Linked DNA regions of Homo sapiens: regions 2, 3 and 4 are each linked to region 1. Evidence: fine-mapped expression QTL. A gene starts in region 1. Each other region holds a variant in brackets. All regions are shown on one strand. Distances are between the middles of the regions.

Evidence for each region. PIP is the estimated chance that this variant, and not a neighbour inherited with it, causes the effect.
Region 2: its variant is fine-mapped to the expression of PGM2 in monocytes after R848 (Quach 2016, PIP 0.95).
Region 3: its variant is fine-mapped to the expression of PGM2 in whole blood (TOPMed, PIP above 0.99).
Region 4: its variant is fine-mapped to the expression of PGM2 in whole blood (INTERVAL, PIP above 0.99).

What each region holds. Positions count from the first base shown.
Region 1 is chr4:37,822,678-37,830,793 of GRCh38, reverse strand. It overlaps PGM2 (phosphoglucomutase 2), which reads right to left and starts at 4,108. Exons shown (of 14, transcript NM_018290.4): 1 at 3,981-4,108; 2 at 663-830. The coding sequence starts at 4,061. RefSeq lists enhancers at 3,436-3,935, 3,936-4,437, 5,470-5,639 and a silencer at 3,926-4,225.
Region 2 is chr4:37,789,573-37,797,688 of GRCh38, reverse strand. No RefSeq gene overlaps it. Among named protein-coding and RNA genes, the nearest start is that of PGM2, 33 kb to the left of the region's middle. The variant G/A (reference allele first, on the strand shown) is at 4,289.
Region 3 is chr4:37,847,837-37,855,952 of GRCh38, reverse strand. PGM2 (phosphoglucomutase 2) reads right to left here. Exons shown (of 14, transcript NM_018290.4): 11 at 7,302-7,431; 12 at 5,580-5,769; 13 at 212-345. Among named protein-coding and RNA genes, the nearest start is that of PGM2, 25 kb to the right of the region's middle. The variant C/A (reference allele first, on the strand shown) is at 3,988.
Region 4 is chr4:37,779,016-37,787,131 of GRCh38, reverse strand. No RefSeq gene overlaps it. Among named protein-coding and RNA genes, the nearest start is that of PGM2, 44 kb to the left of the region's middle. The variant T/G (reference allele first, on the strand shown) is at 3,229.

The DNA.
Region 1 (8,116 bases):
AATTTTTTCTAGCCTTTCTTTTCCCACAATTAAAGTGACATTCATCATCAACAGGTCTAAGGTGAAGAAATACTGATGTGAATAATCTGTTCTATTTCATTTCCCTCATAAACAGTACTGCCAATACCCAGTAGAAGCACTTCTGTTTTGTCAAATTATCTCCTTCCTAAAAGCTGGGTCTAGATTCTGACAAAAATATTCACAAATTAAGACAGACTCAATCCATACTATAAAACAAAGGAGAACAGGCTCTTGGTAACTCCGGCAGTTAGAAAAGCTTTTTAGCACTTGCTATGTAATCATGGCAAAAATTACAGGACCTTAAAAGTTGTCAGCTTAGTTGGTGCATTTATACTGGAATGAAAGCTCCATGAGAGAATCTGTTTGTTCGAGTCATTCTTATATCCCCAGTGCTGGCACATGGTATGTACTCAATAAGTGTGTTAAATGAATGAATGAATGGATGGATGGCTATATGAGTCCTGAATAAGTGCTACTTCGACCTATTGTGCAAGCCTTACTTTATGGAGTAAATGGTGGTGACTTCCTGTGTCTAGCCAAGCTGGTAAGACATGTCTATAATTAGAATAAATTAGGTCTGCCAAATAGAAAATGAGCTAGGGGATACATTGAGTTACTAAGAATTATAAAAAACATGGTACCTGTGTAGTCTGGATGATGGTCAAGTCATTCATACGAGAAATTCCAGGTCCCATAGCAGCTCGGAGGCCAGCTGTCCCAAACTCCATTCGGGCCCCAAAACATTTTCGTAGTTCTTCTTTATTACCTTCTGCTATTAGTCGTTTCACTGCCTCCAAAGTTAAGGAATTCTGAAAAACAAAAATGTATAGACACAGCCAGACAAGTGAATGAAAAATCAGAAATGTAAAAAAATTCACAATCATTCTAATCTATAGAAAATATATATATATGTATATATATATATGTAGACCTTTCAATTTTCTGATGCTTTTGAAATCTGAAATATGAAGTCAGTTTGACATTATAATGTAAGTGTTCTTTTCTTTCCTGTCAAGGTAAGCACCTTTGGAGAAATCAAAGTAGAGATTTTAGCATATGAGTCTAACCCCCAGAATGGAATCCCAGAATACCACTTGCCAACTCTAGGTGCTTGCGCAGATTATTCCAGTTCTCAAATTCTGTTTCCCTATTTGCAAAATGGGAATAATCTAGAACCTCCCTTACACGATTTTTAAGGTTTTAAGGTGGTTTACTTCAAATTAATGTAAAATATCTTTCTCTACCTGGCATTTAGTTGTGATTAAATGTCCATTTTTTTCCCTAATGCCCTCAAATTTTCCAGAGTGATAGATTACACAACTTAAGTCAAAACCTTACTTTTGTAATGTTTTATAATTCATACCAGGCATTCACATACCTGGTCAAGTTTGAATATTGTAACATCTCCAAGAAGTAGACAAATAACAGAAACCCAATTTTATAGATGGGGAAGCCTCAGAGATTGGGTGACTTGCTTAAATTGCAAGATAAACATTAATCTAGTGCCTTTTCTATAACATTAACTGCTTCAAATAGACGCTAACATGATTCATTTAAGTTCATTATACATTGCCCTATTTTTTTTTTGTATGGTAGTTGCAGAAAATGTTATGGTTGGAGAAAAATAATGACAATCACATTAGTTTCATATGAGACTTTTAAGTTATGAATTCAGGAAAACAACAGAGGAAGGACTTTATATTCCTGTTTTACAGTCATTATCCATTTAGATGAGCACTCACGCAGGACGTGGCCATTTAATTAAACTTTGAAATACTACTGCAATAAAACCTTGGCTTTCTGGAATTAAGCCCACATTTCCAGATTGTGGCAGATTCAATGGGAATCAAGTAAACCCCATCTTTTTTGGTGAAAAACAGCAGATGCTAATTACAGAACACAGTCTTACCTATCAGATTGTCAGGTGCCCCAAAGAAAGGCTCAGATCAGGTACATAAAAGAGGCTCATAAAAGAGCCTCAATAAATATTAGTGGAGTGAATCAGAAAACATGGACTTCACTGCCACACTCAATATCGAGTGATCCTCCCTTGTTCATAGTGTAGGTCTGGAAAATCTTAATTGGTCTTTGATATCTATGAAAGACTAAGTAGCCTGAGAGAAACAAAGGAGACAGACAGGTAAGAATGACAAGTCAAGAGTACAGCAGGATCAGAATCAGCCCTGGCAGTGAGCAAAACTGACAGCAGAGAAAAGAGCAGGGATGAAGGCACGGTGGAAAGACAGAGGGCACCTGCCAGGGCGCCTTGCCAGTCGCCGGGGGTAGTCTGACTAGAGGGCTGCAATGCTTTTAGCTGGTGGGAGGTTCACTGGAGAATGAATGGGCTTCTTCTCAGGTGCCAGTCTCAAAGCAAAGAAGAAATTAACAGAGGATAGAACATGAGAAGTGATTAAAAAAAAAAAAGGACATCTCATCTCTACCCAGAGAAATACAATTTTTCTATACACAGATGCAACACTGTGTAGAAATTAGATTGTTTTCTTCTTCTTCTTAGAGAAAGTGCATTATGAACTCTGACTTCAAAAGAATTCTGTACTCTGCAAGCTACAAGTTATCAGAAATGGAAACATTTTTCTTCCCTTGTGAATCACAAGGTTATCTTCCCAGGAAAAGAAAAACGCCCCCAAGGAGTTGCCAATAGCATCCTGGAAATGGGATTTGCTGACATTTTATTTGTAGGGGCCAGAGAATGGTAAATAAAGACAAAGACCTGACCCCTACTGACCTTGTAATCTTCTTTGTTCATTCAAGTATTTCAGTGACCTACTATGTGTCATGCACTATGCCTATGCCAGGCACTACAAACCAAGGTAGTGAGAATAGAGAGGCCTGGCCACATAATTTATGGAGGTCCAGTGCACAATGAAAGTGGGTGACCTCTTGTTTTACCAGTAAGACTTTCAAGACAGGACAGCAGGACATTAAAACAACAGTGGGCCCTTCAAGGAGCGCGAGTCCTGTGAGACTGCAGGGGTCTCTCGCCCCTGAAGTCGGCCCTGGAGACAGACATTAAACAAACCTACAAACAAGTGTTTTTGGAGTTTTTTGTTTTTACCATTTGTAGTAAGAGCTATAAAGGAAAATAACAGACTGTTTAGAGTGAATATTAGGGATAAATAATTTAACGCTTCGGAGCCAAGGAAGGACTGACTCTCTACGTAAGCCACATTTAAGTTCAGGCACAAAATATGAGTCACAACGGGAGAAACAAGTTCAGCAGGAGAGCAGCGAGGGACATTCCGAGAAAACCTAACAGCAAGCAGAACAGGTCGAAAGGGCGAGACGCAAGTTTATAGAGAGGAGAGGGAGTGATGTCCAGAGCTGGGTTCCTGATTCTAAGAAACGGAATGAAGAGAGAGAAAACCGTGCTGTGTCCCAGGTGTGCCTCCCTGGCAGTCAAAGTTCTAAGGGGGACTCCTGAAGCCAGGCGGGCCCACCCGGGAGGACAACCCACGTTTGTAACCAAGCCCTCGGGATGGGAGGACCGGACCAGAACGCTGCTCTGCAAAGGTCTCAGCGGCCAAAGGAATACGCGGGACGGAGCGATTCTGGGTCCATGGGGATGCACAGCCGACTACCGACGACGAGCCAGCGGTCTGAGTGACAGTAAGGCGTGCGCCCCTCAACTAGACAGCGTCCAGGGTCTGGCCGCGCTTACACCACCCTGGCTCGCTCCTCTACTCCGAACTTGCAGTCCGGCCGGCCGGATGGCTGGTTTCGTCCGGGGACAAGCCTTCCCGGCCTAACTCTGAACGTGCCGCATGCCGGCCAGGTCGAAGGAAGCCTAGCAGCGGCCGTACGCTCCTGGGTCTTCCCGGGGGAGAAGCGGGATGCACTGGGCGGGAAGGCAGCTCAGGCAGAGCAAGCAGCGCCGCGCCTGGAGAGGGCAGAGCACCCGGCCCCGCTCCAGGCGCTCCCCGCCTGCTGGTGCCCCTCACCTTGTCCCAGCGCAGCCACTGGGCGGTCTCCTGGTCCAGCCGGGCGTCCTCGCCTAGACCGCTGCCTTCTGGAGCCGCCATCGCTGAGCTTGTGCTACCGCTGCAGAGGGAAGCAGGCGGTGAGATCTGCCTTCCGGCCCGGCCCCAAGACGTGGAGGCGGAGGCGGGGGCGGGGAGAGCCGCGGCGGAGCCAGTCGGTCCGGGGGAAAGTGACGCGCGCCGCGGCGGGCACGCCTCCTTGCCGTTTGCGGGTGCGCTGCAGGGGGTGGGAGTGAGCGAGGAGGAATTGCGGGGCTAGGGTGGGTTGCTGGAACCTGGCACGTGTGAGAAGGGTTTGCCATCGTCTCTGATGCATCCAGGCTACAGCCAGCCGTGAGTTCCTGCTGCGCGCCAGGCACATGTCAGATGCTGGGATACCAGGAAGTGCACCCAGATAGGGGCCTGAAGACTATGTAGAAACTCAGAGGGTCAAGAACAGCCAGAAAAAAATCTTGAAAAAGAAAAGCAAAGTAGGAAGACCAGTGGAACATAAGATAGAGACCAGAAACAAAAATACACGTGTATGGACAATTTATTTCAGAGGCGGGGCTGCAGAGCACAGGAAGGAACTATTTTTGGTTAATGGTGCTCGGTCAAAGGGATATCCACGTAGGGAAAAGAAAAAAGGGAACTTGGCCCCCTACCTCCCATCACACACAGCTCTGAACTCCAGATCAATTGTATCTCTAAGTGCGAAAGGTAGTGTAGCAGGAGGAGCCGCAGACAAAACTCCTCAGACACCGGATTAAAGAAGGAAGAGGTTTTTATTCGGCCGGGAGCGTCGGCAGACTCGCGTCTTAAGAGCCGAGCTCCCTGAAAAAGAAATTCCTAGCCATTTTAAGGGCTTACAACGCTAAGGGGTCTGTCTACGTGAAAGGGTCATGATAGATCAAGTAAGCGTGAGGAACGTGACTGGGGGCTACATACATCAGCTAACAGAACAAGAAGTTTTACAGTGCTTTCTCATACGATGTCTGGAATTTACGGATAACGCCAGTAGTTTTGGTCAGGGGTTAATATTATTATTATTATTTTAACCACCAGGGCCAGGTGGTGGCGCCAAGGTCGTCTAGCTATTTATCTTACTTCTGTTTTTTTCCAACTTTTTGCTTTCTCTCTTTTCTCCTGTCTTATAAACTAGGGAAAAGGGGAGGTGGGGGAGAAGCTGGGAAGGACAGCAGAAATGGTGGTCTCTTTCCATAGTAGCGTGAAACTTAGGGAAACTAACATAGGAGCACATCTTCCTGACGCTGGTATCACCAAGCCATAAAGAAGATGCATACCCATAAGCATAAAAAAGCACGGGCAAGAATATTTCTAGCAGCATTATTTGTAAAAGCCTCAAACTGGAAACAACCCAGATGACCATCGACAATACAATGGATAAATACTTGGTAGTATATCCATACCAATTCATATAAATAAATCATGGCACATTGATAGAGCAATGCAGGTGAACTACTGTTATACACAACATCATGAATGAATCTCACAAACACTGAGTGACAGAGTTCAAACACCCACCCCCATACCCCGTCACCCCAAAATACTGCATCATTCATCTGTAGTCCCAGCTATTTCGTGGTGGGGGAGCTGGAGGGAGTCCTGAGGAGGGAGGATCGCTTGAGCCTGGGAGGTCGAGGCTGCAGTGAGCCCTGATTGTGCCACTGTTCTCCAGCCTGGGAGACAGAGGGAGACCCTGAAAAAAAAAAAAAAAAAAACACTGAAATATATAAAATTATAGGTAAAGGAAACAAATCAGTGATTTTCAAGAGCTGGGGGTTGGGGGAGGGGTTGACTACCTAGGGCACAAGGGAATTTGAGGGAGTTGTGGAACTGTTCCGTATCTTGATTGAGTTTGGGGTTTACTTTTATCAAAACTTATAGAACTGTACGATATAAAGGGTAAAATTCACTGTATGTAAGTTATATCTCTTTTTTTTAAGTTTTAAGATTAAAAACTAAAAAGGAGGCAAAACTAACCTATGGATGTCAGCAGAGTGGTAGCTTTGGGAAGGAGGGAAAGTGCCTTCTGGGGTTCCGGGACTGTTCTGTTTCTTGACCTGGACGATGGTCAACAGGTGTGTTGACTTTGTAATATTCACTAAGCTGCAATCTTATGAGTTGTGCATTTTCCGTATGTTCTTCAACTTTATTTTATTATTATTTTTTGAGACACAGTGTCGCTCTGTCACCCAGGCTGGAGTGCAGTGGTGTGATCTCGGCTCACTGTAACCTCTGCCTCCTGGGTTCAAGAGATTCTCATGCCTCAGCCTCCTGAGTAGCTGGGATTACAGGGGCGTGCCACCATGCCCGGCTTATTTATTTATTTATTTATTTGAGACACAGTCTTGCTCTGTCACCCAGGCTGGAGTGCAATGGTGGGATCTCAGCTCACTGCAACCTCCATCTCCTGGGTTCAAGTGATTATCCTGCCTCAGCCTCCTGAGTAGCTGGGATTATATGTGTGAGCCACCAGGCCCAGACTTTTTTTTTTTTTTTTTGTATTTTTAGTAGAGAACGGATTTCGCCATGTTGGCCAGGCTGGTCATGAACTCCTGACCTCAAGTGATCTGCCCACTTCAGCCTCCCAAAGTGTTGGGATTACAGGGATGAGCCACCGCGCCCGGCTAGTGTGTTCTTCAATTTTAAAAAGAAAAAATATATATCCAGGATCTGTAATATCTGTTTAGTGTCATGGGAAAGGCATACTAATCATGTAATCACGGCAGTTAATACGTAATTACAAACTGATAAAATGCTGGAAGGAAAGCAGAGAGATGTCATGAGGCTGCAGGTTAACAGAGGCCACCTCAGTCAGGAAGCTTGCCTGAGCACTGGAAGCTTAAGAGAGATGTGAGGGAAGGATGTAGTTAATGTGAGAGTGTGGTCCTTCCCCTGACTGCAAAACCTGAGAGGCTGGAGCACAGAGAAGAAGAGAAGGACAGTCTGCCTCAGTTTCCCCAAATGTTAGGTGGTCTGCAGGTCCACCACACTCAGGCTATCTCTTTTCTCTGCACCAGATAAACCTTCTTCTCAGTCATGCTCTGGAAAAAATTGCAGGACATGGAGAATCACAGACCCAGGCAGATCTCACTCACCCTTGTTTTTATCTCAAATGCCAGTTTTCCCAGATGAGTCTGTGCAGCCTCCAGCCTTCTGCCAAGGTAGGACGGGAGCTGGTGGGTCTCTAAATATCCAGCAGTTCTGGGCCTCAGAGTTCACATCTGTCCTTCCGTGATAGGGATGGTTGCAGCTGAGTCTCTACTATGGTTCAAAACATGTGGGGAGTGGTGTCTAAGGAAGTTATTTTGGCACCTTTTTTTTTTCTTTGAGATGGAGTCTCATTCTGTTACCCAGGCTGGAATGCAATGGCGTGATCTTGGCTCACTGCGACCTCTGCCTCCTGGGTTCAAGTGATTCTCCTACCTCAGCCTCCTGAGTAGCTGGGACTACAGGTGTGTGCCACCACACCCAGCTAATTTTTGTATTTTTAGTAGAGACGGGGTTTCACTATGTTGGCCAGGCTGGTCTTGAACTCGTGACCTCATGATCTACCCACCTCGGCCCTCCAAAGTGCTGGTATTACAGGCGTGAGCCACCACACCTGGCCAGGCACCTTTTATTTTATTAGAAATTGTGGGCCCAAGATGATATCCAATCAGAAATATTTTAACTTCATTTGAGACACCAAGAAGCAGATTTTTCAATATTCCTTTATGGAAACAAGGAAATAAAGCAAGTGTAGTTTCCAAGTAGAGAGGAACTTTTAACTAGTAAGTTGCCAAATGTAAATAAATTCTCTTATCTTACTGAGAAGGGCACCAAGATTTTAATTACTGCGTTGAAAAACAATGCACGCAGTCACACTCTATTCCTTCCATCTGCTTCTCATGTGAAGCAGACGGTTATGTCAGGGACTTTTCTGGGGTTGCCTGTAGCAAAGATGCTGACATTGGAGGTTCTGACAGTGATGCTGCAGAGACCTGAGGTTGATAATTTCTTACATATGACCCCACCATTATCATTTTATGTCTGTGGAAACCCACATAGAATAGTAGATTGAAGAAGGGTTCTCAGGGAATAAGTCAGGCCTT
Region 2 (8,116 bases), 33 kb after region 1:
TCAGCCCTGGGCCTGGAAAAGCCAGGAACAGAAGAGCTGGTTGTAGTTCTGGAAGCAGGCTGCTTCTCAGCAGTTGTGGCTTTAGGGAAGTGCAGCCATTGTTAAGCCTTAGCAGGCATGAAGGAAGCCAGGGCAATGCTTCACTTTCCTCTTCTGCCGCCCTTCCTCTCCTGCTACCCTTCCTCTCCTCTTGTGCTTCCTAGTGGCTGAGCCCAACTGAAGCTGGAAGGCAAGGGAGCCCTGTTGATACTTTCCAGAAAAGTCAGCTTCCAGGAGCCACTGGGCAAGGTGGCGAAGGGCAGAGAATAGATCTAGAGGGGCAAAGAACATCCCACACCCAGCTCCTAAGGAACTGTGAGATTCTTACAAACAGAGTTCCTTTCTTAATGCTTTTTGTATCTTCAGCGTGCAGCAAAGAACACATAATGGATGTTAGTTGAATAAACGAATGAATGAACAAATAAATGGGGAGAACAAAAATGCTTGCACTTAAATTTTTTAAAAAATGTATAATGTCCACATATCCTTCATTTGCCCTGGAGACAGTGAAACTTCCTACTGGAAATGAGAGCTCTCACGGACTCCAGGTAGTCAGTGCTTTATGAGCCCATTGCATCCCAGGCCTCATCCATCCTTCATCACGCATTAGCAGTTGCTCTTCTCGGCTGGGGTCATTCCTTGCCAGGAGCTACCATGTCTTCCAGTGTAGATCAGCCTTTCCAGGCTATAGTGTTGTTTCTGAAGCTCTTCAAAAAGTCAAAGGGCCTCCACTGATGCCCGCTTGCCTGCCGCCCCTTATCCTAGACCTCCTTGACCTTTTCCTTGATAGCTGTTGAATTGCACTAAAACTTGCATTCCCACATTCAGGCTGATATTCCTTGTTTCTTTACTGCTGGTCCAGCACTATCCATTACTCCAGTTTTGTCAGCCAATGGATGAAAACTGTTTGCTAATAATGGCAGAAAAAGAGGGCACATAGAAATGCAATAGCTATTTCAGAACATCTCAACTCAGGGCAGGGCAGTAGCTCTCACTGGTCACACTGGGAGTACACTATGGAGTCTCTGACACTTCCCTCCTTACACAGGGTACTGTTCCGTATGATGTGTTCTTCTCCTTTTTGGCTTAGTAAAACATTTTAGAGATAAATAATGTATAATAAATAGATACCATCCCAGAGCTGTAGAAATAGGATACGTATTTACCGGCAAGAGGAAAACTTTTTTGGAAAGTTATAAAAACTCAAAGCAAATGCATAGTAGACATAGTTTTATTATGAAACGTCACTTTTTAAAAGATATAATGTTTCACATATTTTAAATCGATTTATTTGGAGACAAGTCTTTTGTCGTAGGATCAAGTATGCGTCTAAGAGGAAAATAGACGGTAGGTATATGGAAAGTGTGTTTTCTGTGGCTTTTCTGGTTGGCTTACTTGCTCTGTTTGCTCTAAAGACTATTAGGAGGAAAGTGATAACTAAGAAAACAGAAAGTTTGTTCAAAATGGTGTGGAGGAAAAAGGAAGGAAAGAAAATTTTTATCTGAAGAATGAGAGCCCCTTTAAATTATCAGGCCCCAAAAGGCACTGAATGAAACAGCAGTCACATCACTCCCCCTTGAACTAAATAATTATCTCTTGAAGCCACTTGCCATGTGGGCTCTAGACTAACTGATGCCAAGTAGCCATCAAATGCCATATGCCAGACACTATAACACTATATCCTGCAGTCCCACAGTGCATGGCCAATCATTAAGCAATGTTATTCTCTGAAAACCAGTGAGAATTCCTGTCAAAGAACTTTACATCAGACCATTCCTTGTTCCCTTTGCCTTTAGAAACCTGCTTACAACAAAAGCTAACAGAGCACTCCCCAGTGCAACTGGGAAGAGCGTCTCAACAGCTGTCTTCCCTTTGGCTCAAGTAAATTCTTTAAATTATATTTTGTGCCTCAGCCTCCTCCTTTTAGGTCAACAAGGACATCAACTAATACCTCCAGGTGTGTGCAGCTTTAGTATTCACATAAATAAGATTTTTTAAAGCCTTAATTTTTAGCAACCGTCACTAATCATTAAGCCCATTCACATTTTCTAAATCGAGTGTGTTACTGAAGGTCACAGATCAAGTTTCTTTTTGGTCATGAGTTAGTCATGTGAAATGTATCCAAGCTTACTTACAATTTTTATTGTAGGAAAGATTTTGTCATGGAAATGAGATGCTTTTCCTTCAATTCATGGTGGCCAAATTAGGACTCTGAGGACATAAAGTCATATGCTCATGTCATCTCAAATATATAAACTTATTATCTACATTTTACTCATGAATTCAATAGTCAATGGATGCCTTTTTGTTTGAGTCCTATACCTGGTGCTTCAGGATGTCATGAAAAGTGAGACATTGTCCCTGCCCAAAAGGAGCTTCTCTAGTTGGAGAGAAAATACATGTTTAATAGCTGTATGAACCAAAATGTGAGCGCCATCACCGACATGTATTTGACCAAGTACCACTTCCACTAAGTGGAAGAGAGCAGATACACAGAATTCTGAAGGGAGAGAGCTGATTGAAGACAAATTCAATAAAAACTTCCTTTTAAGAAGCAACAGAGCTCCAAAAAGGGAAGCATAGATGAGACTGGTTGAATTGGAAATAACAAGGATCAGTGGAGGAAATGATGAGTATAGGTACCCAGAGAACATGATTTCTCTGTGAAGCATAGAAGTGGTAAGCATGTAAGCCTGGAGGAAAGAGGTTAATTGCAGCAACACAATGATGGCCATCTAACTGTTATGGTCCCAACAATCATGTGCATGGATTAACACGTCTGTAGTCTTTCCTAGGTGAAATGCTAAGATTGGGATAGAGAAAAAAAAACAAAACTGGATAAATCATTTTACTTTAGAAAGGATGTTAAGGGATTATTTTGCTTTCAGACTAAAATAATGTGATATAAAAGAAGGTAGGTAAGAGAATATAGACAGATGATATCAAACATCTAGTTACTGTCATTGGGTTATAAAAATATGTTACTTTACAATGAAAGTAATTACAGGCACTGTTGAAGCCACCTTTGCAAAATTATGAAAGTAAGAGAAATCTGACATAGCTGACTCTAATCTTGCTTCTAGCTTCATAGGTTGACTGTATTTGCTCCTGGGAGTGGGCCAAGCTAACTTAGAGAGAAATTTAGTTTATAGTTTAAATGATAATAGCCTTTCTCCAAAACTAAGCTGTTCTTGTAAAACTAATGAAAGACCACCAAGTTAGGAGGATAAGAGGGGTTTGAATTAGAAATAATTACAAGGCATTATTCCGGAGGTCATAAGATTTGAAACTTCCCCAATTACTCTTGCAAATATAAATAACATCACTATTGTAGAAGCTAAGATTGCCTTTTGGAGATGTCCAGATGGCTCCACCTGGACCTGCCAACAAGTCCTGTCTCACCCCACCCCGGCTCCAGGAACTGACTCAGCACAGTAAGACAGCTTCAATTCCCTATGATTTCATCTCCTATCCAACCAATCAGCATGCCCCCTACCCTACTCCCCTGCCCATCAAACTGCATTTTAAAAACCCCTAATCTCCTATATGGCATGGCCAGCTCTGCCAATTAAACTCTTTCTTTACTGCAATGCTATGGTCTCAGTGAGTCAATTTTGTGTGAGCAGTGGGTGGTTGGGTGGTTACACTGCCAAAAAATAACACAGCAAATAAATTATAATTACATCAATACAACTAAGAGCTAAGCCTGAGTTTAAGGGGACTCAAAAGCACTCTACTTTTCTCTCTCTCTTTCTAAATTTTTACTGGTCTTTGAGTTTGAGCAGGTGTCTCAACCTCAGCACTACTGGCACTTTGGACAGGATAATTCTTTGATGTTTGAGACTGTCCTATTCACTGCAGAATGTTTAGGAGCATCCATGGCCTCTACCCACTAGATGACAGTAGAACCTCACCTACCCCCAACAGCCCAGTGGTGGCAACCAAAAATGTCTCCATACATTGCCAAATGTCCCCTGGCAGCAGGACACAAAATCACCTCTTGAGAACCACTAGTTTAGACAAAAGAATGTATTTTTTTTTTAAAGTAAGTACTGAATATATTTAACAAAAATCATACATGTGAGGTTCACACAGAGAGGAAAAACATATATATAAATACATAAAGTGACATTCCCTATGATTTCATCTCTGACCCAACAAATCAACATGCCCCCCAACCCTAATCCTTTGCCCACCAAACTATATTTGAGAAACCCCTAACCTCTGTGCCTTTGGGAAGACTGGGGCC[G/A]ATGGAAATCTTCTGTTTCACCCCTTGAAGGTTTGTTGAACATCCAACTCACAAAAGGAGATTAATAGGAGAAATGGGATACCAGTCTATTAATGTGCACACAGGGAAGAACCAGTGATTACCCCTGTATTAGTCCATTTTCACACTGCTGATGAAGAAATACCTTAGACTGGGCAATTTACAAAAGAAAGACGTTTATTGGACTTACCTTTGCCCTTCTCTGCCCTTCTCTGCCCTTCAATCCCCACGTGGCTGGGGAGGCCTCACAGTTATGAGAGAGGGTGAAAGGCAAGGAGGAGCTAGTCATGTCTTACATGGATGGTGGTAGGCAAAGAGAGAGAGAGAACTTGTGCAGGGAAACTCCCATTTGTAAAACCAACAGATCTCGTGAGACTTTTCATTATCATGAGAACAGCATGGGAAATATCCACCCCCATAATTCGATTAACTCCCACTGGGTCCCTCCCATACTACATGGGAATTGTGGGAGTTACAATTCAAGATGAGATTTAGGTGCGGACACAGCCAAACCATATCATTCCACCCCTGGCCCCTCCAAAATCTCATGTCCTCACATTTCAAAATCAGTCAGGCCTTCCCAACAGTCCCCCGAAGTCTTAACTCATTTCGGCATTAACTAAAAAGTCCACAATCCAAAGTCTCATCTGAGACAAGGCAAGTCCTTTCTGCCTATGAGCCTGTAAAATCAAAAGCAGGTTAGTGACTTTCTAGATACAATGGAGTATAGGCATTGGGTAAATACAGCCATTCCAAATGGGAAAAACTGGCCAAAACCAAGGGCCTACAGGCCCCATGCAAGTCCAAAATCCAGCAAGGCAGTCAAATCTTAAAGCTCCAAAATGATATCCTTTGACTCCATGTCTGACATCCATGTCATGCTGACACAAGAGGTGGGTTCCCATCATATTGGGCAGCTCCATGCCTGTGGCTTTGCAGGGTACAGCCTCCCTCCCAGCTGCATTCACGGGCTGGTGTTGAGTGTCTGTGGCTTTTCCAAGCACATGGTGCAAACTGTAAGTGGATCTATCATTCTGGGGTCTGGAGGATGGTGGCCCTCTTCTCACAGCCTCACTAGGTGGTGCACCAGTAAGGACTCTGTGTGGGGGTTCTGACACCATATTTCCCTTCTGCACTGCATTCACCATGAGATGCTGACCCTGCAGCAACCTTCTGCTTGGGCATCCAGGCATTTCCATACATCCTCTGAAATCTAGGTGGAGGTTCCCAAACCCAGTTATTGACTTCTGTGCACGGGTAGGCTCAACACCACATGGAAGCTGGCAAGGTTGAAGGCTTGCACCTTCTGAAGCCATGGCCTGAGCTCTACATTGGCACATTTCATCCATGGCTGGAGTGGCTGGGACGCAGGGCACCAAGTCCCTAGGCTGCACACAGCAAGGGGACCCTGGGTCCAGCCACGAAACCACTTTTTCCTCATAGCCCTCTGGGCCTCCTTCTTGGCTGCCATGAAGACCTCTGACATGCCCTGGAGACATTTTCCTCATTGTCTTGGGGATTAATCTTCAGCTCCTCGTTACTTACGCAAATTTCTGCAGCAGGCTTGAATTTCTCCTCAGAACATGGGATTTTCTTTTCTATCACATTATCAGGCTGCAAATTTTCTGAACTTTTATGCTCTGTTTCCCTTTCAAAACCGAATGCTGTTCACAGCACCCAAGTCACCTCTTGAATGCTTTGCTGCTAGAAATTTCTTCTATCAGATACCCTAAATCATCTCTCTCAAGTTCAAAGTTCCACAAATTGCTAGGGCAGGGGCAAAATGCCACCAGTCTCTTTGCTAAAACATAACAAGAGTCACCTTTGCTCCAGTTCCTAACAAGTTCCTTATTCCAGCTGAGACCACCTCAGCCTGGAATTCATTGTCCATATCATTATCAGCATTTTGGTCAAAGCCATTCAACCATTCAACAAGTCTCTAGGAAGTTCCAAACTTTCCCACATTTTCCCATCTTCTTCTCATCCCTCCAAACTGTTCCAACCTCTGTCTGTTACCCAGTTCCAAAGTTGCTTCCACATTTTTGGATATCTTTTTAGCAGTGCCCCACTCTGCTGGTACCAATTTGCTGTATTGGTCTATTTTGAAGCTGCTGATAAAGACCTACACGAGACTGGGTAATTTACAAAAGAAAGAGGTTTATTGGACTTACAGTTCCACTTGCCTAGGGAGGCCCCACAATCATGGCAGAACGTGAAAGGCACATCTCACATGGTGGCAGACAAGAGAAGAGAGAGCTTGTGTAGGGAAACTCCCTTTTTTAGTATCATCAGATCTCATGAGACTTATTCACTATTATGAGAACAGCACTGGAAGGACCCGCCCCCATGATTCAATAATCTCCCACCAGGTCCCTCCCACAACACATAGGAATTGTGGGAATTACAATTCAAGATGAGATTTGGGTGGGGAAACACACAAACCATATCACCCCCAAATCCCAGTGGGGCCCAGATACTTATATAGCCTTATTTCAGAGGCTGGGGGAGAGATGGGGAATATAGGTAATTCTGTTTAGGGGCAGTACATGATTACTAGGGAGAATGAATGGATGGGAGTGGAGATTAACTTGTAAATGGTTCTCTTTGAAAACAGAATGAGCCTGAGAGACAGTTATTATCTTGTGAAAGAGTCTGTTCAGGTGCGGTTACATTTGTGATCTTCTTTTCTGCAAAAGATAATGAGATAACAGGGAAGGAAAGGAAAAACCATTATTCTCCTTGGTGGGTCTGTCCTGTCTTTATGTAGCTAGAGAAAAAGTCTCTTCCAGCTTTTGCTGAGCTCTAAGGGACTTTAATTCATTCCTTACACCAAGGAGCCAAATTTTAAGGTGAAGTTCCCTGTACTCCCTCATTCATCAGGAAGTACATTCTCAATTATTCCTAGTAATCTCAATTATTGCTTGGTAGAGAACACACAGATTCATATTTCTGAGGAAGCCACTAACTGTCTTGAGCTTTTCCAAGCCAAGGTTGAGATGGTCTTGTCAGCCGACCTCTGCTGGCTGAACACACGAACTTTCTGAGCCCAGTGTGGTACAGATTCTCATGTTTTTACCTGGTATATGGCAGATGCACCTTACAACAATAATTTAAACATACCCTGAGAATGATTTTAGGGTCTAAGAAGCATGTGTGTTTGGAGTTCCAAGCTAAGGAATCCAGGAGTGGCCAACCCAGAGATTGAAGGGATTGAGGCCCTTTGTTTTGGGTTAAATGGAGGTTGCTGAGAGGAGGGTCCTAAGTGAAAATGCTGTATAAACTGCATGCTTTTTATAAACAGTAATGGTGCTACTGTCCAGCTTGCCACCACTGGGCCATTCCTGTATGGAGTTTCCCTGATAAACCCTATGTCTCATTCATTGTCTCCAGGTCTCTTATTTGCCCTCTAGGGTATGGTGCCATCCCTATCGGAGTCAATAGGGGCCTGGCATGACATCTGGTGAGCACTTCATGGCTGATCAAGCTCAGGGCAGGGTCTTAGGTGCAGCTGGTTGAGGCAGATGGCTTTTCTCTGGGGTTTAAGTATCATCTCAAAGTGGAGGTGCAAGATACTGGGAGCATGCTCAGTTGAATTGAAACCACCTTTGCAAAAATTATAACTGAGGAAATGACAGTGATAGAGATCAGACCTAACCAATTCCATCTTGCTTCTAATCTTTAAGCTGTCCTTGTTCATTCCTGGGCATAGGCTGAACTAACCTTGGGTAATAATTTAGTTTATGGTTTGACTCTGAAACAAAGTTGATAATAGCCCTTTCCCATAAAGACCCCTTTCTTGCCTGGGGACCA
Region 3 (8,116 bases), 25 kb before region 1:
AAATTTAGGACAAAAGTAAGAAAGTAAAAAGTAAGCTTTTCCCTGGATGCTGAGACTGACTGTTAATACCAAAATATTAGTGCAGGTTCTGAAACAGCATTTCTAATTAAATTACCTATTAGAAAGATGGAACATTTCACTTGGCATTTGAATAGAACCAGTTAGGAAGTCTGGGGAGTAAAAATCACACCAGCTGCCATCCACATCATACCTGTTCCCAGGTGGGGCACACAGCTCTGCATAGTACTTGATTTTGGGCTCTGTCCCACTGGTGCGCATGGTGGCCACGCCTCCATTAGCAAAGGTGAAGGTGATCATTTGGCTGCTTTTACTAGTGGGAAGAACCTAGGAATTAATGCACACATTATAAATTTAAATAGTAACATTCTGGCCTAACCAATATCTTCTCTTGCATAAGTAAGAAAATAAATGCCAAACAAATCTATTGGTTAGAAAAGAAAAACATTCTGGAGGAAATCAGAAAATGTACTCCACATGAATGAAATACTAAACGATAGTAATTTATGAATATGTGGTCTACTATATGGAATACTATTCAGCCTTAAAAGAGAAGGAAATCCTGTCATTTGCAACAATATGGAAGAACCTGGAAGACATTATGTTGAGTGAAATAAGCCAGGCATAGAAAGACAAATACCGCATGATCTCACCTACATGTGGAATCCGAAAAGGTTGAACTCACAGAGGCAGAGAGCAGAATAGTGGTTACCAGGGGCTGACTGGGGAAGGGTGGGGATAAGGGAGGGGAGTTTGGGGAGATGCTTGTCAAAGGGCCTAAAGTTTCAGCTAGACAGAAGAGAAGTTCAAGAGATCTATTGTACAATACGGTGACTATAGTTAATAATGATGCATTGTATACTTGAAAATTGCTAAGAGAGTAGATTTTAAGTGTTCTCACTACAAATACATGATCAATATGTGAGGTAACACATTCTAATTAACTTGATTTTAGCTATCACAATGTATACATTTTAAAACATCGGATTGTACATCATAAATGTATACAATTTTTATTTGTGAATTAACATAACTAAATTAATTTTAAATAAAGAAAATTAAGTAACTTTGTGTATTAGCTTTTACTTCCCTAGTTCTATTGAAGTTATTAAAGTTTTATTTAAACACATCATTTCACAAGATATTGACTTAAACAGATTAATACACCACAAAAAAAAACCTCAAACTAGATTATATTTACTGTTATAAAGTGAATCTTTGCAAAGAAAATTCCATAAGGAGTTTTTTTTGTTTTTTTTTTTTAAATAAAGCTTCCAGGCTGGGCGCGGTGGCTCATGCCTGTAATACCAGCACTTTGCACTTTGGGAGGCCGAGGAGGGCGGATCACATGAGGCCAGGAGTTGGAGACAAGCCTGGCCAACATGGCAAAACCCCGTCTCTACTAAAAATACAAAAATTAGCCAGGCATGGTGGCGGGTGCCTGTAATCTCAGCTACTCAGGAAGCTGATGCAGGAGAGTCACTTGAACCCGGGAGGTGGAGGTTGCAGTGAGCCGAGATTGCGCCACTGCACTCCAGCCTGGGTAACAGAGTGAAACTATGCCTCCAAAAAAGAAAAGAAAAAGAGAAAAAAAAGGAAGCTTCTGTAAGAAAAAATAAATGCCATATAAATTTACTGGTTAGAAAAGAAAAATGGTCTTGAGGAAATGGTATATTTATATTTGATAGGTCCCAAAACTCCATTAAAATAGAGGTACTTTGAATAGCATAAACACACGGGCAAAGAGACAAAGAGGAGGTAGCAGCTGATGGGGCTGCCAACCGATCGCACAAGTCAGAAAACAGATGGAGGCACAGAACTGGTCTGGTGGGACCCAGAGAATGAAATCTGAGTGCCTGCGGAAGGAGACATGGATGAGAACTGAGGCAAGGTGCTCTGCAAAATCCTGGCCAAGCTCAAGAACCAGAGGCACCAGGTACTGCAAAAGGCAGATGTGAGGCAGGGGTGGAAAGCAGGAACAGGGTTTGAAAGAAGTTCTTAGACCATCCCGGTTCCTTGCCCTGAGCCCACACCGTCACAGAACCACCTCTTCTCCATTTCTGCAGGAGATGGTTTAAATTCTCTGGAGATTAAATCAGAAACATTCAGGAGTTGGGGAACCTGGGCAGGGCATGATGAAAACAGAGGGATCAAGTAGAAGTCCTCAGGCTGACACCCCCAGCTCCGCCCCAGTCATGCCTCCAGGGCCTTGGCATCTCATCTTATCATCCTTGGGTAGGTGATTAAGGTCTCATTAAATCAGGGGGATCCCCTTATAAAGTTAACTTGCTACCAATATCCTCTGAGTGAAGTATGTCATTTGATCTGCATATGTACACAGAGCTTCCAATCAGTTCTTAGGTGCCCAAAGGAAAATTAAGGATCATCAGACTTTTGGGGAAAGACATCATGTAAAAGACAAAGTCCAAAACAAACAGAATAAAAAGAACTTGGTGGAAATAAAGAGAATGTAGCAGAAAAAGAAGACATATATTTTTAAAAAACTATAATTAGGTCTATAATCCTTAGAGAGGTAAGATATTGTTTACATTAAAAAAAAAAAAAAAAAAAAAAAGGAATATCACCCTGGGCAACACAGCAAGATCCTGTCTCTACTAAACTAAAAAACCTTAGCTGGGCATGGCGGCACACACCTGTAGTCCCAGCTACTCAGGAGGCTGAAGCAGGAGGATTGCTTGAGCCCAGGAGATCAAGGCTGCAGTGAGCTATGATCATGTCACTGCACTCCAGCTTGGGTGAAAGAGCAAGACACTGTTTCAACAGGACACTATTTTTAATAAATTAGTTATAACTGAAACAGCCAACAGAGGCACTGAAAGCTAAAGCTAAGGAAATCTCCCAGAAAAACAGAAGAAGAAAGAAAGAAACAAGAAAAGTAGAACATCAGTCTTGGAAAGCCAGCATCTAAGAGCTCTTCAAGAAACAAAGAACTGAAAATGCAGGGGAGGTGATTATTTTAAAAAATAACCAATTAGCTCCCTTTCCTGATACATAATCAAGAAAACTTCTCAGAACTAAAATAAATGATTCTACAGACCAAGTATCCAGAAACATGAATAAAAAGGGACCCATACTATAGCATATCACTGTGAAATTTTAGAACCTGAAGTTTAGAGAAAAGTTCCTAAAATCTTCCCAGAGGAAAAAAACAAACAAAACAAGTTGCATGGAAAGGACTGAATAAGTATGGCATCAATAACCTTACATACAGCATACAGTAGGCCTTAACTATCTGCTGAAAAAGGAAGGATTGGAGGCTCAATAGCAATGCTGGAAGCCCAACAATAATGGAGCAATGCTTTCAAAACTGTGAGTCAGTGAAGTGTGAGGACAGAATAAGACATTTTCGGACTTAAATGCCACCAAAAACTTACCACCCAATTACTTGTTCTCAGAAAGCTATTAGAGGATGTGATCTAGGAAAATAAATATAGAAAGAGGAAGCCATGAGGTCTAGGAGCAAGGGACTCAATCCTGGAGAAGGGCATTCCCAGGATGACAGCTGTGCACCCAACCAGGAGGGCGGCCATTGGACATGGACCAGGAAAACCCTACTGAGAGGCATTTGAAGGATTTGGGAAAAACTGCTGACAGGACATAGAAATCCAGGCAAATGGAAGAACAAAGCAACTATTACTACATGAATTAAGGCAGGCGCAGTAGCTTACGCCTGTAATCCCAGTACTTTGGGAGGCTAAGGCAGGAGGATCACTTGAGACCTGCCTGGGAAACCTAGGGAGAGACTCGTCCCTCCAAAAAAAAAAAAAAAAAAAAAAAAAAGAGCTGGGCATGATGGCATACCCTTGGTCCTAGCTACTCAGGAGGGTGAGGTGGGAGGATCACTTGAACCTGGGAGGTCAAAGCTACAGGGAGCTGTGATCATGCCATTCACTCCAGCCTAAGTGACTAAGTCACACAGCAAGACCCTGTCTCCAAAAAAAAAGAAAA[C/A]AAACAAACAAAAGGTACAGGAAATACAATTCTCTATACAAATTAGGGAAACCTAATCAAAATACACTACTTAGCTAGCAGGCAACAGCAGTTACTAGTCATAATAACAAAAGCACGGAATCTGATTTAACCAAAAGCTGTGGCATAAACGTACTGTGAGGATGGGGAGAAGAGAATTATTGAATGTAGAAAGCGTAAGAACTAAATCTTTATCTCAAAAATAGAAAGTCAACAAATTGTAAAACTGGTATATCAAAACATCACTATATGAGCACATGATTTACAAATCTAGTCTTGGTGACATGGCAATGAGGTGGCAGGGGTGGGACTGCCACGTTTCATCGTAAGCGTTTTCATACTATTTCTATTTTAAAAATATGCTGTGTGCAGATGAAAATGAAAAATAGAACAAAGAAAATATCAAAGAACGTGCCTAACATCTCATAAGGATATTCTTAACTTTCCTCCCCCAACCCCAACATAGAAAGCAACACTCTTCTGCTACCTTTGTGTCTTCTTTTGTCTCCAGTGAAAGATCTGCTTGGTGTAAAGAATGCAAACTCAGGCTTTACAGCCAACAGCTCCAATACACTCAGAGAACAGAGTACACTAACTAGAAAACAAACAGTGGTTCTCAAAGTGAGGACCAGTTGCATCAGTACCACCTGGGACCTTGTTAGAAATGAACATTTTTGGCTCCTACCCCAGACCTACTGAATCGGAAAGTCCAGGTGTGGGCTCCAGCACTCTGTTTCCCCAGCCTTCTTGGTTACTGATGCTCCTGCAAGTGTGAGAACTCCTGACAGGGAGAGAATGCTGGATCCTGAGATAGAAAACCCAGATTCTCCCTGGACCACCACCAACTAAGCTCTGTGTCCACAGACAGGTTCCACACTTCTGATCACTTATTGCCTAAGGTGCGAAATGACCACACAGGCTTTGATGACTAGTTCCTCTTTTTTTTTTTTTTTTTTTGAGATGAAGTCTTGCTCTGTCACCCAGGCTAGAGTGTAGTGGTGCAATCTCAGCTCACTGCAACTTCTGCCTCCTGGGTTCAAGCAGTTCTCCTGCTTCACGCTCCTGAGTAGCTGGGATTATAGGTATGAGCCACCACACCTGGCTAATTTTTGTATTTTTAGTAGAGATGGGGTTTCACCATGTTGGCCAGGCTGGTCTTGAACTCCTGACCTCAAGTGATCCACCTGCCTCGGCCTCCCAAAGTGCTGGGATTACAGGTGTGAGCCACCGCTCCCAGCCTAGTAGAGTCTCTTTCAGTTCTAGCCTGCGGTTTTTAACTTACCACGCCCAGCTAATTTTTGTATTTTTTAATAGAGACCGGGTTTTGCCGTGTTGGCCAGGCTGGTCTCGAACTCCTGATCTCAAGTGATTTGCCCACCTCAACCTCCCAAAGTGCTGGAATTATAGGCATGAGCCACCACATCCGGCTTCCATATATTTTTTATAGCTTATTTATAATCACGCCTAAGTGCCTAAAATCAGCTTCAATTAATTGTATGGTTAAATAATTTATTCAAATTATTTTAAAAGGTAAATAGAAAAGAGGTTAGTTGAAAAGAGAAGACATTACTTACAGCTTTTTTATCAGGTTGGCTATCATCATAGCCAGTTGTAAGGTCCCTAATGGCAGAAATTTCAAATTTGCCACAAGCTTTTGGATAATTATTTTTTCCATCGTAGTTTCTGAGGTTTTCAAATAATTTCTTAATGGTTTCTTGATCATGGCAGATAAAATAGGAAGCTTTAGTAATATGGTAGCCATACCTATCAAACAAATACAAATTCATGCACATGAGGAACAAATAATTTTGTAGGGTGGACACAGAACATGTACCAACCAGTGTATTCTAAAATAAATATGGCTGGGTGTGGTGGGTCACGCCTGTAATCCCAGCACTTTGTGAGGCCGAGGCGGGCAGATCACCTGAGGTCAGGAGTATGAGACCAACCTGGCCAACATTGAGAAACCTCGTCTTTACTAAAAATACAAAAATTAGCCGGGTATGGTGACAGGCACCTGTAGTCCCAGCTACTCCAGAGGGCTGCAGCAGGAGAATCGCTTGAACCCAGGAGGTGGAGGATTCAGTGAGCCAAGATTGTGCCATTGCACTCTAGCCTGGGCAACGAGAGACTCCATCTCAAAAAATAAAATAAAATAAAATAAATAATAAAATAAATGTAACAGCCAAAACTGACGCCAAAGGAATAATTTTTAAAAGACCATTAAAACAGAGGTCTAGGCCAGGCACAGTGGCTCACGCCTGTAATCCCAGCACTTTGGGAGGCCAAGGTGGGTGGATCACCTGAGGTTAGGCGTTTGAGACCAGCCTGGCCAATATGGTGAAACCCCTAACTCTACTAAAAGTACAAAAATCAGCCAGGTGTGGGGACACCTATAATCCCAGTTACCCGGGAGGCTGAGGTAGGAGAATTGCTTGAACCCAGGAGGCAGAGGTTGCAGTAAGCCGAGATCACACCACTGCACTCCAGCCTGGTGACAGAGCAAGACCCCGTCTCAAAAAAAAAAAAAAAAAAAAAAAAAAGAGGTCCAACAATCTACCCCAGGGATCACCAAATGACTGCCTGGTCTTCCGCCTGCATTTGCACAGAGAGCCAGGTCACACGCATTTCTGTATTCTCTTTGGATGCTTACGCACTACACTGGCAAGGCAGAGTTGAGTAAGTGCTACAAAAAAATGAATAGATGTATTATGAAGACATTCAATCTTTTTTGATACTGGACACTTAAAATCACATTCTTTCATGTTGTCATTTGTTAAGAATTAATGCGATCGGGAATAGTAATTACTAACTTGTTACATATCAAAAGGAAAAGGTGATCTCTTTAGTTTTTTTAAATTTTTTTTTTTTTTTTTTGAGACAGAGTTTAGCTCTTGTCACCCAGGCTGGAGTGCAATGGCGCGATCTCGGCTCACTGCAACCTCTGCCTCCCAGGTTCAAGCAATTCTCCTGCCTCAGCCTCCTGAGTAGCTGGGATTACAGGTGCCCACCACCATAACCAGCTAATTTTTGTATGTTTAGTGGAGACGGGGTTTCACCATGTTGGACAGGCTGGTCTCGAACTCCTGACCTCAGGTGATCCACCCGCCTCAGCCTCCCAAAGTGCTGGGATTACAGGCATGAGCCACTGTGCCCAGCCTTATTTAATTTTTATAAGAAATAGAATTCATCACCAAAATAAGAGCATTAGAAAGGATATTAGTATCTCATGCATAAGTATATAATAGAACATTTCAAAATATTATTTCAATCCAACAGAGTCAATAACAACTTACTCCACATAAATGGCCTTTAGTTGCTGAGACAAAGACAAATTCTTGGTTGCTAGGAAGCTAGCCAACTCTGCACTTATGACAGCGGCACTGACTCCATCTTTGTCCAGAACAAAAGGGCAGCACATGTATCCTGCAGAAACACACGTCATACATACATCTATACAATACTGTGTCAAACCACATATGAGTATGAATCCTGGCTATTGCATATTAGAGGTTGTACAGTGTTGCGTGTATGCACATTTCTCATTAATACCTTATGTTTAGGAATTTAGCCCAGTGCCTAGCCCATAGCAGGCCTTCAAGAAGTATTTGCTGAAGAACCTGCAAGATTTTCCCTCCTGGCCACATGGTGCTCAATCACTAGAGTCATGAAACTCCTTCCAGCTCATGAAATTGTTTCTAATTGTCCTAGTCAATACATATCTCTTTCTTCTCTGAATCCCAATAGTATTTGTTAGTTACATTATTCATTTTGACATCTGGCCTCTACTCTTGTGTGTGATTACTTAACTAAATCTATCTAAGCTGCTGTAGGCTAAGGTCAGTGCCATCCATTTCTTTTAGAGTCACTGAGTAATAGACATGCAATTAATACTTGATAAATGAAAGAAAATCTTTCTTAAAATAAAAAGCTACGGAAAGACAAGTCTGCCAAATCTGACAATAAAAGAGCAGAACCTGAGCGATTATGCTTTGATTAGTTAAATCATGTGTTAGTGTTGCAGAGAATATACAAATGAATATAAATAAATCTAATGCATAATAGTTTTTACTAAATTAATAGCTAAAAGCGTTTGGTACAATGTGAGTTT
Region 4 (8,116 bases), 44 kb after region 1:
GGGATTTTATTTTCTGTTGCATTGTCAGGCTGCAAATTTCTGAACTTTTATGCTCTGTTTCCCTTTTAAAACTCAATGCCTTTAACAACACCCAAGTCATATCTTGAATGCTTTGCTGCTTAGAAATTTCTTCCACCAGATACCCTAAATCATCTCTCTCAATTTCAAAGTTCCAGAAATCTCTAGGGCAAGGGCAAAATGCCCAGTCTCTGCTAAAACATAACAAGAGTCGCCTTTGCTCCATTTCTTAACAAGTCCCTCATCTCTATGTGAGACCAACTCAGCCTGGACCTTATTGTCCATGCCGCTATCAGGCTTTTGGTTAAAGCCATTCAACAAGTCTCAATGAAGTTCCAAACTTTCCCACATTTTCCTATCTTCTTCTGAGCCCTCCAAACTGTTCCAACCTCTGCCTGTTACCCAGTTCCAAAGTCACTTTCACATTTTTGGGTATCTTTTCAGCAGTGCCCCAGTCTATTGGTACCAATTTACTGTATTAGTCCATTTTCATGCTGCTGATAAAGACATACCTGAGACTGGGCAATTTACAAAAGAAAGAGGTTTATTGGACTTACAGTTCCATGTGGCTAAGGAAGCCTCACAATCATGGTGGAAGGCAAGGAGGAGCAAGTCACATCTTACAAGGATGGCAGCAGGCAAAGAGAGGAGCTTGTGAAAGGGAATTTCCCTTTTTGAAACCATCAGATCTCATGAGACTTATTCACGGTCATGAGAACATCATGGGAAAGATTTGCCCCCATGATTCAATTGCCTCCCACCGGGATCCTCTCACAACATGTGGGAATTCAAGATAAGATTTGGGTGGGGACACAGCCAAACCATATTAGTAGGGGATAAGCAAGATGGTGAAAAGTTGCATAATTTTCACCTTCCCTGGGACCTCCAAAATATCACAACAAAGAGTTCTTTGTTTGTTAGGAACATATTAGGCTGCAAATAATAGAATACTAGACTCATGGTCGCTTACATCAATGGGAGTTTATTTAAAATCAGAGCTATGTAGCAGTTGGCATGGATTCAGCTGTTCAACGATGCCATCAGGGACCCAGACACTGTCTATATTTCCACTTTACCATCCTTGTTCTGTTGGCTTTTGTGCTCATGCTTGCCACATTATGGTCTTAGGGTAGTTGCTATGGGCTCACACATTACGTTTATATTTCAAGGCAGGGAGAAGGAAAATGAGGAAAAAGGTACCAACAATGGCCATGTTCTTCTTTAAGAATTAACTAACTTAAAGATAGTTAGTTCTTTCCCAGAAATATCCTCACCAAGTTTCTACTTGCATCACGTGGCCTCCCTGAATATAAGGGATGAAAGGAAATAATTTAGCTTTTATATCTTCTATAATAGATGCAGGCAAGGGAGAAGGCATGGTGCTGGATCAACCAAGCCTATAATATCTGCCATATTTATGGAATTCATAAATGTGGGCTGTGTAGGAGCTAGTTTGGGAAATCAAAGAGAGTGATGAGTTTTCCACTGGGAGTTTGTCTGGTGTGAACAGATGCAGCTCTTGAGAAAGAAAGAGGTCACAGAGGAGAAGAATCCAGGGAAATGCAGCCCTTGAGAATGGACAGAATCCAGGTGAGAGCTTTTGGCTTCCACAGACTGCAGATTGGAAGGATGGGATGTGTCACAACACTGAGATTTCATGGTTGATGTCCAGCTTCTACTGATCTTTAGTTAATCACCAACCCCTGCTAATTCTTCCTCTCCTACAGTCTTCAAATTTGACACTTTCACGCAGTCCTTTCTTTAACATCACTACTAGTGAAGCAGGATATTTCCCTGACCCCTTCGAGGGACTTGTGACAGGTGTGCTTCATTTACTCAGCCTACCACTCTCAACTCTTCATGAGAGGGAGCACATGATCAAACGAGTGTGGCAACTGGAGTAGATGAGTGCTGGAATCAGCTCCTTTGGCACTGGTGGGATCACACTCCACTCACTCAGACCTGCTGCATTCCAGCCCTTGTAGGAGGGAGCAGACAGGTGAGAAGGTGCAGGAACTGGCTGGATGCTTTAGCGCCAGCAGGAGCAAACTCCATGCAGGCCCCACAGCAGCATCCAGGCAGGGGTGTCTGCAACCCCCAAAGCCCCAGAGGGAGTGTTACAGAGCTCTTTTAGCTCTGCCATCTTTGGATGGCTTAAGTGTTAACAGCTCAGTTAACAGCTCAGGCCCTTTGCCTTTTCATGTGAGGCAGCTGCCCTCCACCTGTGAAAGCAAAGGGACAGTGTGACAGCCTTTTGAATCCACGCTTGTGTCTCCCAAGCTCTTATCTGGCATCCGGGAAAAATGAAGTTGCATGAACGAATTGAAGGATGGTAAATGCAGGGGGATTTTATTGCCAATGAAAGTGACTCTTAGCAGGAAGGAGGGCTGAAAAGAGGATAGTGAGGGAAGGTAATCTTCCCCTGAGGTCCAGCTGTCTCTGGCCAGATTCTTCTCTGAAGTTACACCAACAAGTTGTCTCTCTGAAGACAAGCCACTTCTCTCCAACATCTAGCCATAGTTCCTGCCTACTGGCTGGAACTTTTATAGGCACAGGATGGGGTGGGGTGGGGCCATGGGTAGTTTAGAAAAAGGCAACATTTGAGTGGGAAAACAGGGATAAAACAGGGATAAAAATTCTCATTTTGGGCCACAGTTGCAGACTTTTTGGCTTGAGGATGGGGTTTCACTGGGGACCTGCCTGTTTGCCTAGAATTTCTCTGCCCCCGTCCCTATCACTAATGTCTCCCTTGCCATTCCTGAAATTTCCATAGATGTCTTGTCTGTCTGCCTTCAGTTTTTCTCCTTCTAGTCCATCCTCATTTCGCTTGTTTTTGTCTAGCAATTGCCCTGTACTTTAAAGGCTGCAAAATCACTTTCATGGGGAAAGAGTATAACTAATAAATGGCTGGAAAACAAAATGTCTTGGACCATGGTGAGAAATTAACAACAGAATTAGTCATCATCATGGATAGAGCTGGAGGTCATTATCCTTAGCAAAGTAATGCAGGAACAGAAAACCAAATACCGCATGTTCTCACTTATAAGTGGGAGCTAAATGATAAGGACACATAGAGGGGAACAACACACACTGGGGCCTATTGGAAGGTGGAAGGTGGGAGGAGGGAGAGGATGAAGAAAAATAACTAAGGGGTACTAGGCTTAACACCTGGGTGATGAAATAATCTGTACAACAAACTGCCCCCCGACT[T/G]CATGACACACATTTACCTGTGTAATAAACCTGCACATTCTGCACATGTACCCTTGAACTTAAAAGTTAAAAGAATTAGTCATTTTAATGCTTGGGTTGTGATGTCCCCTCCTTTGCTTCTGAGAGCTCACTACAGAAACACAGGCCCTTCAGCTTCAGGTCCTTGGCATGTAGTTTCTTTGGATTTTCAGATACCAAAGAGGGCCCATCCAGTAACTTATGGTGCACATTATTTGTAAAGTTCATATAGATAAGTCACATTCTCCAAAACAAGCAACAAAAATGTAATTATGTGAAAACATTTTTGAATAGTAACCATACATAGAAAACGTGTTTTAGAATATTTCATTGTTGTGGAAAGATGGTTAAATATCTTGTTAAGTGGAAAAAGTGGGCTCCAAAACAGCATGTATGATTTGAGTTTTACACATGTATGTGTGTGTGTGTGCATGCACGTGCACACGCATGCACACACACACACACGCAGAGAAAGAAGAGAATGAGAGAGGAATTTCACCCTAGGTGTTTCTTAGGCACCAACTTTAGAATTTAATTCCAGTAAGGTGTGACTCCATTATCTTGTTTAATCCATCCATTAAATACATCTGTTAATAGGTATTAAGGCTATAGCTGCTTAATATTAAAACATAACAGATTAAATACTGCCAGGAAGCAGAACTACTTGGAATTTTCCCTGTCTCCCAGGTTATTTTAAGATATTACTTTTGTTTCTTCTTTTATTCTAGTTGAGCAATTCCCAAAACTTCTTATATATAAGAAGCACTCTCCAGGGTTATAAACACAAAACTGTGTATACTGAATCTTATGAGTGATTTAAGGACAGTTCAGTGATAATTTGTAAGTTTCCCCTCCTTATTAGCTGATATGGTTTGGCTGTGTTCCCACCCAAATCCCCTCTTGATTTGTAGCACCTATAATTCCCATGTGTTGTGGGAGGGACCTGGTGGGAGATAATTGAATCATGGGGGTAGTTTCCCCCATACTGTCCTCATCATAGTGAATAAGTCTCATGAGATCTGATGATTTTATAAGGGGAAACCCCTTTTGCTTGGCTCTCATTCTCTCTTGCTTGCTGCCATGTAAAACATGCCTTTCTCTTTCTGCCATGATTGTAAAACCTCCCCAGCCACGTGAAACTGTGAGTTCATTAAACCTTTTTCTTTTTTTTTGAGATGGAGTTTTGCTCTTGTTGCTCAGGCTGGAGTGCGATGGTGCGATCTTGGCTCACCACAACCTCCACCTCCTGGGTTCAAGCAATTCTCCTGCCTCAGCCTCCTGAGTAGGTAGGATTACAGGCATGCACCACCACGTCCAGCTAATTTTGTATTTTTGGTAGAGATGGAGTTTCTCCATGTTGGTCAGGCTGGTCTTGAACTCCCGAACTCAGGTGATCCACCTGCCTCAGTCTCCCAAATTACTGGGATTACAGGTGTGAGCCACCGTGTCTGGCCAAACCTCTTTTTCTTTATAAATTACCCAGTCTTGGGTATGTGTTTATCAGCAGCATGAAAATGGACTAACACATTAGCTGACTTTGGAATCAAAGCTTGAGTCACATGCTTTCACCATACTTACACTATAAAGAAAAATCCAGATGGATATAACGCACACTAAAAAGTGGAGAGGATTTCTTCTTGGTAATGGAAAGTTTTTAAAAGTAAAAAAACTTTTACTTTATTCTTACCTGTATTTTTTACTTTTTCTATAGTGAAGCCCTATTAAATGATAAAAGTTCATGAACAATATTCAATTCACTTGTTCTCCCACGACCTACTTTGCAGACTGAAGATAGAGTTCATTATCAAAAGCAACCTGGGTGATTCTAGCAGTGAACCCCAACCTGAGCCAGCTCCTGGACTCACAGATCTGCTATTTTTCACTGCAAGACAGGAACTAGTAGGGTGACAGTATTGGGGATAAAGTAATCCAGCTGAGGCCGGGCGCAGTGGCTCACACCTGTAATCCCAGCACTTTGGGAGGCTGAGGCGGGCAGATCACAAGGTCAGGAGATCGAGACCATCCTGGCTAACACAGTGAAAACCCGTCTCTACTAAAAATACAAAAAATTAGCCAGGCGTGGTGGCGGGCGCCTGTAGTCCCAGCTGCTTGTGAGGCTGAGGCAAGAGAATGGTGTGAACCCAGGAGGCGGAGCTTGCAGTGAGCCGAGATCGCGCCACTGCACTCCAGCCTGGGAGACAGAGCGAGACTCCGTCTCAAAAGAAAAAAAAAAAAAAATTAATCCAGCCGAATTGAGGGATACACCAACTGACTCATTGTGTTACAATGCTAGTTCAGAAACTCCCAGGCTACCCTTGTTCTATCATTCTCTTTGGAATGATCAGTTTTGTGATTTGTACACAAATCATAGTCCTAATACAGTCTGTGTTTTGCTAACACAGTCCTAGTTTTAGCTAACCACACAGTATCATTTCTGCATAGAAGTAAGAATTCTCATTTTTCCAATGCTTAATTGATTCTTAAGGGAAGAGTACTTCATGTGATAGGATAATTTGGTTTAGATTTATCATGCTGAGCATCTGATAAGACAAATTAGTAACTCTGCCTGTTTGAAAGAATTTAGAAACACAACCAGTTTAGCCACCCCATGTTGTTCAGCCAGTATACAAACCCGTCTTATGTTCTTGGATTTTTCAGAACCTCTCCCTATAGAAAAAAACGCCCTTTTTCTTTGCTTGTTAAGTTCTTTTATCTTGGCACATGTGCTCAGAAATTGTAGGTAATATCTAAAAGGGTAAAGAAATATAAACAAAGCATCCTTCCAAACAAATCTTCATCAAGTAAAGTTTTATTTGATGTTGAGAAGTCTATTTGTCTAGCAGGAACAATGAAGATCAATGGCCCATCCGGGGGCACTCTCTCCCCAGGAAATTGCAGTGGTTTTCAGCCCAGCCTCTTTCTTCTCTTTGCCTGCGTCTCAGCTGGGACAGCTTTGAAAATCTAGAAGCAGCCATAAAAGGACCCACACAGGAAGTTTTCATATTCTACTGAGAAAGGGGACATAGTAAAAAACAGGTCATTTATTTTTACATGCTCCTTTGCCTTTTTCTCCTCTCCTGCTTATTGTCCCATCACAAAAATTGTGAAAAGGAGTAAAATCTTGTCACCTTAAGATCCACCTAAATGTAAAATGTAGAGCAATTGTAGTTACCACTGTTCTGTTCAGAAGCAAACAAGATAATTCACATATGTAAGGTAATATGGTTTGGCTGTGTCCCCACCGAAATCTCATCTTGAACTGTAGATCCCATAATCCCCCTGTGTTGTGGGATGGACTCAGTGGGTGGTAATTGAACCATGGGGGTGGTTATCTTCATGCTGTTCACATGATAGTAAGTGAGTTCTCACAAGATCTGATGGTTTTACAAGGGGTTTTTCCCCCCTTTACTCTGTATTTCTCCTGGCTGCCGCCATGTGAAGAAGGACGTGTTTGCTTCTCCTTCTGCCATGACTGTAAGTTTCCTGAGGCCTCCCCAGCCCTAAGGAACGTGAGTCCATTAAACCTCTTTCCTTTATAAATTACCCAGTCTCAGGTATATCTTTATTAGCAGCATGAGAACAGACTAATACATAAGGGATGTTGTACACATCAGGGACTATAAATCTGTACAGTTTATGTTAGCATGTAAGTGCACAAGCAGTGGTGTAGGTTCTTGGTTTTGTTGTGTGCTGTTTAGTTCAGCCTGATGAAAAATGATATCACTGCATTTGCATAGTGCACAAACTTTCTTTGAGCAAGAACTTCCTTTTCCCTTGGATGGGCCATGGGAGATACTACAAAGGACAAAACAAGCCTTGTGAACCTAGTGAGATGATAGACAGCATTCTTTAGGAGGTTACAAAAGAAGGTCATGAAGAACAACTATTGTCCCTGACCCAAATCCCCTAATAAGGTTTCTAGGAGACTTTAATTCAGCATTAAGCTTCCACAGGACATACTTTAAGAAAGGGTAGAACTGAATGAAGGTCTACTCAGGCTAGCTTTCTCTTTTCTGGCAGCATCATCAGGCACATTGAATTTCACATTTTTTTTTATTTTTTAGTTTTTTGAGACAGAGCCTTGTTCTGTCACACAGGCTGGAGTGCAGTGGCATGATCTTGGCTCACTGCAGCCTCTGCTTCCTGGGTTCAAGAAATTCTCCTGCCTCAGCCTCTTGAGTAGCTGAGATTACAGTCGCACGCCATCATGCCTGGCTAATTTTTGTATTTTTAATAGAGAGGGGGTGTCGCCATGTTGGTCAGGCTGGACTTGAACTCTTGACCTCAGGTAATACACCTGCCTTGGCCTCCCAAAGTGCTAGGATTACAGGCATGAGCCACCGTGCCCAGCTGAACTTCACATATTTTTAAATGTAAAAAACATTTTTAAATGGAAGTCAGTCATGATTTTCTTCACAAACATTTCATTTCACTGCAATTCTAGCTTTTCTCCCCATTAAGAATAGAGAGTGTGTTAGTCCATTTTGTGTTTCTATAAAGGAATACCAGAGACTGGGTAATTTGTTTTTAAAAAAGAAGTTTATTTGTCTCATGGCTCTGCAGGCTGTAGAAGCATGGCATCAGCATCTGCTTTGCTTCAGGGGAGGCCTCAGGAAGCTTTTACTCATGGAAGAAGGTGAAGGGAAAGCAAGTGTGTCACATGAAGAGAGAGGGTGCGAGAGAGAGAGAGAGAGTGGGGAGATGCCACACTCTTTTATACAACAAGATCTCAGCTGAACTTACTACCACTCATTACCTTGAGGAAAGCACCAAGCCATTCATGAAGGATCCATCCCCATGGCCCAGCACCTCCCACTAGGCCCCATCACCAACACTGGGGAATCACATTTCAACATGAGATTTGGAGTGA